3 linked regions of the Homo sapiens genome follow. The protein of the gene in region 1 interacts with the protein of each later gene in a pairwise test. Each region holds a gene or a part of one and is shown on either strand. Other genes may lie near its edges. The genes, in order: CDR2, PSMA1 and KANSL1.

Region 1 (3,655 bases):
AACTCCTAAACTTTTAACAGATTTTAAAACTTGTTCATTTCTCAAAAATGTATTATCTGCTCTTTGCCAGGTATTCGCCTGGGCCCTGGGGCCACAGCACCTCCCCACATGAGTGGATAGGTAGGATTCCTACTCCCATAGAGTGAATGTTCCAGGAATCTGTTCACTAGAGAAGCCTGGAGGTGCCGCCTCATGGGATGTGCCCACTACAGCGCCTCGTACATTGTAGGCCCTCAGTAGACACTTGCTGCTGAATTAAGTTTGGGAGCAGGTCTGTCCTGTTAAACAGATTATTCAGCAAGTCTAGTGGGATTTTATGTGCAGGCATCTGTCCGTTTTTTAACATCCTCATTATTATTACTGAGCAAGGCTTATTTGGAGAGAACTGCTTAAAACTTTTTTTTTTTTTTTGAGGTGGAGTCTCGCTCTGTCCCCAGGCTGGAGTGCAGTGGCACGCTCTTGGCTCACTGCAATCTCCGCCTCCCGCGTTCAAGCCATTTTCCTGCCTCAGCCTCCCAAGTAGCTGGGATTACAGACACGTGCCACCACACCCAGCTAATTTTTGTATTTTTAGTAGAGACGGGGTTTCCCCATGTTAGCCAGGATGGTCTCAATCTCCTGACCTCGTGATTTACCCGCCTCGGCCTCCCAAAGTGCTGGGATTACAGGCGTGAACCACCGCACCTGGCTGGAAAACAACTTTTAATGATCCTGTTCTCAGTATCTTACAACTATAGAATGTTTTCCTTTAGCAGTAGTAAGCCATGCTCTGAATAGATTGAATCTTTGTATCAAAGTTTCCTAGGGTATCCGTTTTTAAATTGAAATTGCTGGAAATTTCTAACCTCAGTAAACTCTGGTCTACTATTCATACCTTGTTAGAAACATGTAAAGCTTTTGTGTAGGCAGGAGGAGAAAACCCTTTGCTGTTACAAAACTCTTTGATGAAGAGACTGTCTTTTGTCAGAGAGCTGAGTTGGCTCAGTAGGAATACTGACAATAATCTCTGTGGGTAAGATCTTTTCTGGGACAGCAGGAGCCTTCAGTGCAGGTAATGATGGTGCTTGCTTTGAAACATGCCCCTGAGAACAAGGTGGAAAGACTTCAGAGACTGGATTTTCTTTTAAACCAGCTGCTATTGTCATTTGGTGAGCTGTGCAAACTTAGAATAAGGATTCAGGTTTCTGTTATGTGGATCAGTAAATGAACTCTTAGTTTAAAGGAATCCTAAAATTGCAGGATGAGTACATCCTCCTTGTGTACAACTATTTTGCTGAATCACTGTTTGGAGGGTTATTAAAACTGACAACATCATTTTTCTTGATATTTATATTCAGGTTTTCTGCTTTCCCAATTATAGTAACATTGGCAACAGGAGTTAAACAGAAGCATCACTAAATGACGCATTTGACTTTGTAATAGGAAAAACTTTCAGCCTTACTGTTAGTGAATTACTCCTACAGACTACAGCTGCCAGTACTAATTTTTTGCCTAAAGCATAGAGCTGAGTATCTGTTTAAAGCTAACAGTTTACACCATTAAAAATATATTATTACCTGCAAAGACTCATTAGTGAAAGAATATTCAACATATGAAGGTATTGATATGTTGAAATTCTCAAGCCTGCAATAAATCTACAGTATTTTTAGTAGTTGCCTAAACCAGGCCAGTTCAATAGGATTTAGAGAAGACCCTCTTAATGAAAATTCATTTTGTAATCCTGTAGAGATGAACAGGTGTATAAGGCTTCGAAACTATATTATTTCCTTTTCTTTTGTGCCTTAATTAAAACTATAAGGGACATTCAATATTCTATTCCCTCCACTAATTATTTAGAAAACTTTCTTGGGCTTACTGCCAGCTTTTGGCCTCTTTTGGTTATGGAAGCCAGCTGCTACTCAACAGGAAATGAACTTTTTTTAAAGACAAAGTCCGGTGTCTTTAAGCTAACAGATGAAGTAATATCCTGTTATACAGTGTGACTTCACAGGAGCTTTCTTGTAGTTGGGACTTGTTAAAATTCTATCCTTAACAGCCTATAAATATTTAGGAGATCGAGACTTCAGGTTTCTGAGCCAGGCTGGTGCTTTGTTTTACTGGAAATAAGGTTTGAGATAAGGACAAGTCTCAAATTCTTTTTTGTTTGCTATCTACTAAAGAGTGCTGTCCTTGGTATCTCTTTCTGCAGGAGCAGGGAAGAGGTTCCTGGCTACTCTTAAGTAGCACAGGTAGTTCCATAACTGAATGAAAGTGGTGATAGTCTCAAGACAGTCTGGATTCTGGGAGAGGTTTCAGCCCAGTTGGGTTTTGTTTTTTTTCTTTTTTTTTTTTTTCCTGCTAAGAGACAAGGTCTTGCTATGTTGCCCATGCTGGTCTCGAACTCTTGGCCTCAAACAGTCCTCCTGCCTTGGCGTCCCAAAGTGCTGAGATTACAGGTGTGAGCCACCACACCCGGTCCTTGGCTCAGGCTTTGATTGCTGGTTAAGAGCATCTTTGGTGAATCTGAGCCTTCCCAGTGAGGAATTACCACTTCACACATTTAAGAAGGAAAGACTTAAGTAATACCTAGGTAATGTTTTTATACTTTGTCTTTAATACAGTGTGGTAGCTTCCATATGGGTCTATGTATACACATTACACACTCTGTGAGTACAAAATCATTTTTTCTGGAACATGTTGAGCCATACATAGTTCCTTTTTCATTTGGTGAAAACAGGGTATTAACTTGCCTGGGGTTGTATGTGCTTTCACTAGCAGAGCAGGCAATAAAAACCCAAATAGTTGAACTCTAATTTCTCATTGCAATCTGTGAAAACAAGTAGAAGAAATTAAGTACCTCAACAAGGGGAACATTTGTATTCTCTACCTTAAAGAAGCCTGCGGACCTCTCTTTCAATTGCCTTAAAACTCTGCAGATGAAGATAACAAAGAATCGTGATGAGAGTGAGAGTGAGAACCTGTTGACCTAAGAGTTTCTGTTTGATCTGTGACTCACCTTGGAGCTTGATTAGGTCAATTAACAGTTTTGTGCTTCAGGCTGTCTCATCTGAGAAACTGGACTAAATACCTTTAAAGATATAAAGACTAATGTCTCTAGAAAACAAAAAGTAGGCTGGGGGCAGTGGCTCATGCCTATAATCCCCAGCACTTGGGGAGGCCGCGGTGGGCGGATCACTTGAGGTCAGGATTTCGAGACCAGCCTGGCCAGCATAGTGAAACCCCATCTCTACTAACAATACAAAAATTAGCCAGGTGTGGTGGTGGGTGCCTGTAATCCCAGCTACTCAGGAGGCTGAGGCAGGAGAATCACTTGAATCCAGGAGGCAGAGGTTGCAGTGAGCCGAGATCGCACCACTGCCCTCCAGCCTGGGTGACAAGAGTGAGAGACTCCATCTCAAAAAAAATAAATAAATAATGACAAGAAAAAGACTAATGTCTCTTAAATGCTTTGAGCTATTTGTAAAAGTTCTGTGTTTTGTAAATACAAGTTATTTCATAGATTTAATGGAAGTCTTTATTTTTTATTTTTTTATTTTTGAGACAGGGCCTCACTGTATTTTTGGTAGAGATGTAATTTCACCATGTTGCCCTGGCTGGTCTCGAACTTCTGAGCTCAAGCAGTCCATCTGGTTCACCCTCCCAAAATGCTGGGATT
Region 2 (3,655 bases), on another chromosome or scaffold:
GACCCAGATACCAACACAACGATATGGCCGGAGACCATATGGTGTTGGTCTCCTTATTGCTGGTTATGATGTAAGTTCATTGAATATTGTTATATGTTAATGATTTTTTTTAATTAACTAGAAATTTTTATAATTTTTAGTTCAACCAAAGTAAATAATTATGTGGTGTATTTATTTCTATTTGTAGGATATGGGCCCTCACATTTTCCAAACCTGTCCATCTGCTAACTATTTTGACTGCAGAGCCATGTCCATTGGAGCCCGTTCCCAATCAGCTCGTACTTACTTGGAGAGACATATGTCTGAATTTATGGAGTGTAAGTGACAGCCTTGCTTTTTTTTTTTTTTTTTTTTGCCTTTTCCAGTCTATATAGTAAATAAACATAGTATCCTAAATGCATAAAACTGTAAGTCTTATAGAAAGAATTTTTTTAAAAAAAATTATGCCCATGAAGAGTTTATTGTTTCTGTCACATATACTAATCTTAACTTCTGGTTACCACAGTAGTTTCAAGCACGAGTAGAACTTTTTCAAAATATAAATGTGTTCCCAACCTTGAAAATTCTTGATTCATTTGGTCAGAAGTGTGCCCTGTGGAGTGGAGAGTGGAGAACCACTGTACTACCTGCCAGTTGTAAGCTCTGTTCACTTTTAGTTTTCTGTGAGTCTTTTGTTATTTTAAGCCACACAGACATTTCTGCATTAGTAGTCCATAAACAAGAAATAAAAAGGCAGTGTAGTTGAGGGAGAAGAAGGTAAAAGAGGTAAGATGTTATGACAGGACAGGTTTTCAAGTGCTTTGCTTTGCATTGGAAGGAGGGTATCGGGTTTTACATTTCTCTTTGTCATCTTATCTGTTTTCTGGTGACAAAGCATTCTTTGGAGGAAATATTTGGGGTTTAGTGAATGCAGAGAAAAATAGTTTAATTGACATTACTCAAAGCAAACTTGTGGGATGACAATAGGTTTAACTTTGGGAAAAGAGGATTCCTTGGACAAATAAGCTTGGTAAATGCTGGCTTAAAGTTTAACATTGTAAATTATGGTAAATGGTTTGGGGTCCCCAAGGTTACCCCTAAATTTGGAGATATGCTAGGACTTAAAGCGCACAGCATATAGTTGTACTCCCAGGTAAGACTTTTAACAATAAAATAACAGTACATAGGTGGATCATTAAGGAAAAATACAGTCCAGAGGAATCTATGTGCAGGCTTCCTTATGCTCTTTCCTTCCCATAAGGAGTCACAGAGTACACTTGCAGCAATATGTATGTGATGTTTCTGCCCAGAGAAGCTCATTAGAAACTCAGTGTCCAAAGTTTGGTTCAGAACTGCTCATATCAGCACCCTCTGCCTAGCACATTTCAACCTGGATAGGAAATTCCTAAAGATTGCAATAAATCTATAGATAATTTTGGGGAGTACTGCTACTTTGATGATACAAAGCATCTGATCCATGAACATGGAATATCTTCATTTATTTAGGTATTTAATTCTTTTTTTTTTTTTCCTGAGACGGGGTTTCACTGTTTTTGCCCAGGCTGGAGTGCAATGGCGCGATCTCGGCTTATTGCAACCTCTGCCTCCCAGGTTCAAGCAATTCTCCTGCCTCAGCCTCCTGAGTAGCTGGGATTGCAGGCATGCGCCACCACGCCTGGCTAATTTTGTATTTTTAGTAGAGACGGGGTTTCTCCATGTTGGTCAGGCTGGTCTCAAACTCCCGACCTCAGGCGATCCGCCCAACTGGGCCTCCCAAAGTGCTGGGATTACAGGCGTGAGCCACCACACCCAACCAGGTATTTAATTCTTTCACTGATGTTTTGTAGTTTTCAGTGTACAAATCATATTTGTCTTAAAGTATTTTATTATTTTTGGTGCTGTTGTGAACAGAATTGTTTTCTTAATTTCATTGCATATTATTCATTGCAACTATATAGAAATACAGTTGATTTTTATATATCAATCTTATATCCTGCAATCTTGCTGAACTTGTTTATTAGTTCTAGTCATTTTTTTATAGATTCCTAAGATCATGTTGTCTGGGAATAGAGATAGTTTTACTTTCTCCTTTCTAACTGCCGTGGCTGGAACCTCTGGTACAATGATGAATATAAGTTGCATGAACAAACCTTCTTTTTTTTGTTCCTAAACTTAAGGGAAAAGGTTTTAGTCATTCACTGCTAAGATTGATGTTACCTGTCAGCTTTTTGTAGATGCCCTCTATCAGACTGAAGAGGTTCCTTTCAATTACTAGTTTGTTTTGTGTTTTTATTATGCAAACATTTTAGGTTTTATCACGTGCTTTTTATGCATCTCTTGGGGTGGTTATGCAGGTTTTCTCCCTTCCTTCAGTGTAACTGAAAATTACACTGACTTTCAGTTGTTAAACTAACTTATTCTTGGGATAAATCTCACTTGTATATGGTATATAATTTTTTTAATGTGTTGCCAGGTTCCGTTTGTAGTTTTTGTTGAGGGTTTTGTTTTGTTTTGTTTTGTTTTTGCATCTATATTGGGTCTGTAGTTTTATTTTCTTGTGATGTTTTTATTCTTGTTATCGGTAATACTGGCCACATAGAATAAGTTGGAGATTCCTTTTTACAATGAGCAAATATAAGGACTAGGATTCTACAGAACACATTCTACAAAACTTGGAGTTGTATAATTTATAGTCGGGATTTTGATTTGACCTAGCAAAAGAGAAGATCAAAATCGTAACAAAAATCATGAGTCCTCTCATTAAATAAAATAAGAATCAGCAATGTCATAGAATGCTATTAAAAGATTATATGACTAGCATTAAACTTGGCTGTTTTTACTGTGATAAATTTAGTGTGTAACTAAAAACCACAATTTGAGACTGTAGATTTGATAAATAACAGAAGCCTAGCATAACAATGAAATTAAGAAATAATTGTTAATTTATTACATATAGGTAATTTAAATGAACTAGTTAAACATGGTCTGCGTGCCTTAAGAGAGACGCTTCCTGCAGAACAGGACCTGACTACAAAGGTAAGTATTGTCTTTTCCAATTGTAGATATTAACGTTACAGTTTAAACCTTTATTGCATAAATGTAATGGAGTATATATGCAACATTCTGTAATTTGGGATATGATTGTCTTGGCAGATTCTTTTCCTTTAAGCTATTTGCTAAGTAATCCAATTTTATTTTTTAAACATTTCTTTTTGGTACAAAGCAGTAAAACCAGTAAATTTCATGCAAAATGTCCTTCATTATTTTCAGCAGATTGGCATATCTTGGTATTATTTAGTTAACAAAAATATATATATATTGAGCACCTACCATGTGCAGGCACTTTCTAAGCATTGAAAATACAGTAAACACAACAAATAACTTTTTCTTCATGGAACGTACATCCTAGTAGGGAAAGATAGACAGTATATACATAAGTACATTATATAGTATATTAGAAGAAGATAAATGCTATGTAAAAAATAAAAAAGCGTTAAAAGGAGAAAGAATGACCAATTGGATGTAGGTAGGTGTAATTTAAAATAGGTGGTTGAGGATATTCTCACCAAGAAAATGAAATTTGAGGAAAAGATATAAAGGAGGTAAGTGAGTATGAGCTATGCAGATCTAGAGCAAAATTATTCTAGGAAATACAAATGCAAAGGCCCTAGTATTT
Region 3 (3,655 bases), on another chromosome or scaffold:
GGCCAGGTGTTTGGACTAACCTGTAGCATTTTATGTTTCTTGCAGATGTTCCCACAAGCCTGCATTTCCAGAGCATGCTGAAATCTCAGTGGCAGAACAAGCCTTTTGACAAAATCAAACCTCCCAAAAAGTTATCGCTTAAGCACAGAGCACCCATGCCGGGCAGTCTGCCAGATTCAGCTCGTAAGGACAGGCACAAATTGGTCAGCTCCTTCCTAACAACAGCCAGTAAGTGTCAGGGAGCCGGGAAGTCCCCCAGAGTATCAGTGACTTTTCATTCCTTTTATATTCTCAAATTTGTAGTTTGCATGCATGTTGGGGTTGGGAGAGGCAGTTGACCGATAAAAAATTCAGCTCACAGTGACTGCTTCTGCTTGTCTTGGATGCTCTCAGATGGACTTCGGGAGCTATTCTAGACACCATGGATCTTGGAGCAAGACCCAAAATGCTCAGTGAACAGCCAGCAATGGCATGGCATTGAGTTCATCTACGGGCAGGTGTCTTCTGTATCCTGGTGACATGTTTCTCTGGTTCTGGGCTCCCTGTGCCTATCCTAGCCATTGTGCAAATTACTAGAAACTTCAGTCCTGAAGGACTGTCCTGCTGCCCTGGGTATACGGCGTTGGCCTAGAGAGAACTCGAGAGCTTGGAACTCGAATAAGAAAATATTTGAGAGGACATATTTCACAGCTCTTTTTCTGTTCCCCTCTTCAGAGCTGTCCCATCACCAAACCCGGCCTGACAGGACCCACAGGCAGCACTTAGACGATGTGGGGGCCGTGCCCATGGTGGAGCGAGTGACAGCGCCAAAAGCAGAGCGCTTGCTCAACCCACCACCACCCGTGCATGACCCAAACCACAGCAAAATGAGATTGCGAGACCATTCATCTGAGAGAAGTGAAGGTAGGGCCAGGCCCATGGCACCTCTACCTGCAACTGCACCTGCTCAGGGCTTTCTGGGGCAGCCTAGGCTTCTCTTAATTACCCCCAGCTTTGTCCTTCACTTTCTAGGAAAGCAGAGTAGAGGGACGCTACTGCTTCTAAATGGAGGTCACTTCTTAACTGCTACAGCAACCTCTGCCCTGCCCCTACTTCCCACAGCTAGTGTGCTTCACCTTTTTATCCTCTAGGCATAGAAAACATTTTTGCCTTTAGTATGTATTGCTGCCATTCCAAGCTTGTGTTAGAAGTAACGCTGGTTAAGATAGCCATGTATTTCTCTCTTTTCTGTTGACTTCTGCAGTGTTGAAGCATCACACAGACATGAGCAGTTCGAGCTACTTGGCAGCCACCCACCATCCTCCACACAGTCCCTTGGTGCGACAGCTCTCCACCTCCTCAGATTCCCCTGCACCCGCCAGCTCTAGCTCACAGGTTACAGCCAGCACATCGGTAAGTACCTGTGTGGGGTTGGCCGGACACCCCCTCTGCAGGTCACAGCTCACTCAAGTGGCTCCAGAGGACAGTGTGAGGGTGGGTTATAAAGCCCAGGGCATTTATAGGATCTCAGCTCATCATGACATATGTATGTATGTCTGTACCATTTTTAAGTCAAAGTCATGGTACTTGACCTTCTGTTGTTTTTCTTGAGTTGTTTTTCATAGCAGAGATGGATTTATGCTGAGCCATCCATAGAAAGCTTGATGCAGGGACAAACTCTTAAGGTGATCTGTGACTATTCAAGATCTGTTGGACTAAGTTTCACACAGGACTCAACAGTTCCGTGGCCCTAATCCTGTTGGCCCAAGAAGTGAACAAGAGAGGAGGGGTGGGTAGAGGGGAGATTCCCATGGGCGTTGGAAGCAGTGTTTGATTTCCTTGGTTTTACTCTCTGGGTGAGTGGAGGTGAAGTACTAAGAATAAACACTAGGCGTGAGGGTACCAGAAGAGAAGGGAAGGGAGAAGGCAGAGTCCATGCTTTTTAGGTATACAGAGCAGAATTACAGATCCAGCAGGCCCCCATGGCAGGACATTTGGCATGCACACACCAGATTTTACGATACCACACTCCATCTGGAAGCAGTTTGCACAGCTATTCCAGACACATTTCCTTTAATTTCATTCTAATATTTTAATTCCTCAAGTGTGCCCTCTTGGAACATACATACCTGTAGCTGCTATGGACCTACTCAAAGGGTCCTTTTTGTATAATAATTACAATGTAATGTAATGGTAAATGTAAAAGTCTGCAACTGTAATGTTTATTGAACACTTACTACATACCAGTGATCAGTGATTTACATGTGTTACATGTTATAATGCCTTTTGAGATGTAGGTTGGTACTGTGGATTTCATTTTATATGCATGAAAACTGTCAAGGCAACTTGTGAGGGTTATAATTATGATTCAAACTCAGGCAGCCTGACTGTAGAGCCAGCTCTTTTACCATTACACTACACAGGCTAAGCCTGGGTGAGGGTATTGCAGAGGCAACTTAGGAAGTTCCTTCAGAGCCTAGATCAGGAAACTTCCAAGCTCATAAAATGGACTCACTAGGCTCCTGTGATCAGGTAGGAATTCACATTGTTCTCTCTTTGCTGTTACAAATCAATCTTTTCCAAATGGTCTCTTTGCTCTTCGACTTTCTTTACCCCCGTAACCCACAAATTTTATCTAAATAGGTGTGTAGTGTCCCTCACATACTCAGTTATCCAGCAGCAAAGGGTTTCAGATAACCAAAGTATTTATAAAAAAGAGTCTAAACTAATTCTGATAGAAAATCTGAACTCAGAGATTCAGGACTTGGTGAGCACTTCAATATTTCTGTGTCTGGAGAATGTTAACTTAGGCCTGGATCACTTGAAATTTTTACCATTTATTGAGTAAAAATTTTGTGTATAGCACTATGCTAACCCCTGAGGCTCTCTCATTGCCAAGTTTTTTCAAAGACTCTGGATTTATGTAAAAGAAGATAGGCCAGGCACAGTGGCGCTCACCTATAATCCCAGCACTTGGGGAGGCGGCTGAGGCGGGTGGATCACTTGAGGTCAGGAGTTCGAGACCATCCTGGCCAATAAGGTGAAACCCTATCCCTACTAAAAATACAAAAATTAACTGGGCGTGGTGGCATGTGCCTATAGTTCCAGCTACTCTGAGGCAGGAGAATCACTTGAACTGGGAAGCGGAGGTTCCAGTGAGCGGAGATCAAGCCATTGCACTCAAGCCTGGGCGTCGCAGCAAGACTTCGTCTCAAAAAAAAAAAAAGAAAGAAGATAGGCCAGATAACAGCAGGCTCTCAGTATCTGCAGTATCTGCAGTGGGGATTGGTTCCAGGACCTCCCATAGATAGCAAAAGCTATTGTTGCTCATGTCCCTAATATAAAATGGCATAGTATTTGCATATAACCTATGTGTATGCTTTAAATCCCATATACTTTAAATCATCTCCAGATTACTGATAATACCTAATGCAATGTAAATGCTATAAAAATAGTATGCTGTATTGTTTAGAGAATAATGAAAAGAAAAATCTGTACCTTTTCAGTACAGACACAATTTTTTTCCCCCAAATATTTTCAATCCACAATTGGTTGAACCCATGGATACAAAGGGCCAGCTCTCCTTGAAATCAAGTAAAGAAGCCAGAGGACACTGGAGAAAGGTAGGGAGGAGAGCGAGTGTTTTTGTCAGTGCTTCCCAAAAGCCAGTAGCTGC

Evidence for each region.
Region 2: the proteins of CDR2 (region 1) and PSMA1 interact in binary tests that used the Homo sapiens proteins (3 or more experiments, as listed by UniProt).
Region 3: the proteins of CDR2 (region 1) and KANSL1 interact in binary tests that used the Homo sapiens proteins (3 or more experiments, as listed by UniProt).

Annotation. Positions count from the first base shown.
Region 1 is NC_000016.10:22,367,966-22,371,620, reverse strand, and holds part of CDR2 (cerebellar degeneration-related protein 2), read left to right. Parts: intron 1-3,655.
Region 2 is NC_000011.10:14,510,232-14,513,886, reverse strand, and holds part of PSMA1 (proteasome subunit alpha type-1), read left to right. Parts: coding exon 1-70; intron 71-187; coding exon 188-317; intron 318-2,935; coding exon 2,936-3,015; intron 3,016-3,655. UniProt on the Homo sapiens protein: Component of the 20S core proteasome complex involved in the proteolytic degradation of most intracellular proteins. This complex plays numerous essential roles within the cell by associating with different regulatory particles.
Region 3 is NC_000017.11:46,036,275-46,039,929, reverse strand, and holds part of KANSL1 (KAT8 regulatory NSL complex subunit 1), read left to right. Parts: intron 1-45; coding exon 46-228; intron 229-714; coding exon 715-903; intron 904-1,243; coding exon 1,244-1,392; intron 1,393-3,655. UniProt on the Homo sapiens protein: Non-catalytic component of the NSL histone acetyltransferase complex, a multiprotein complex that mediates histone H4 acetylation at 'Lys-5'- and 'Lys-8' (H4K5ac and H4K8ac) at transcription start sites and promotes transcription initiation.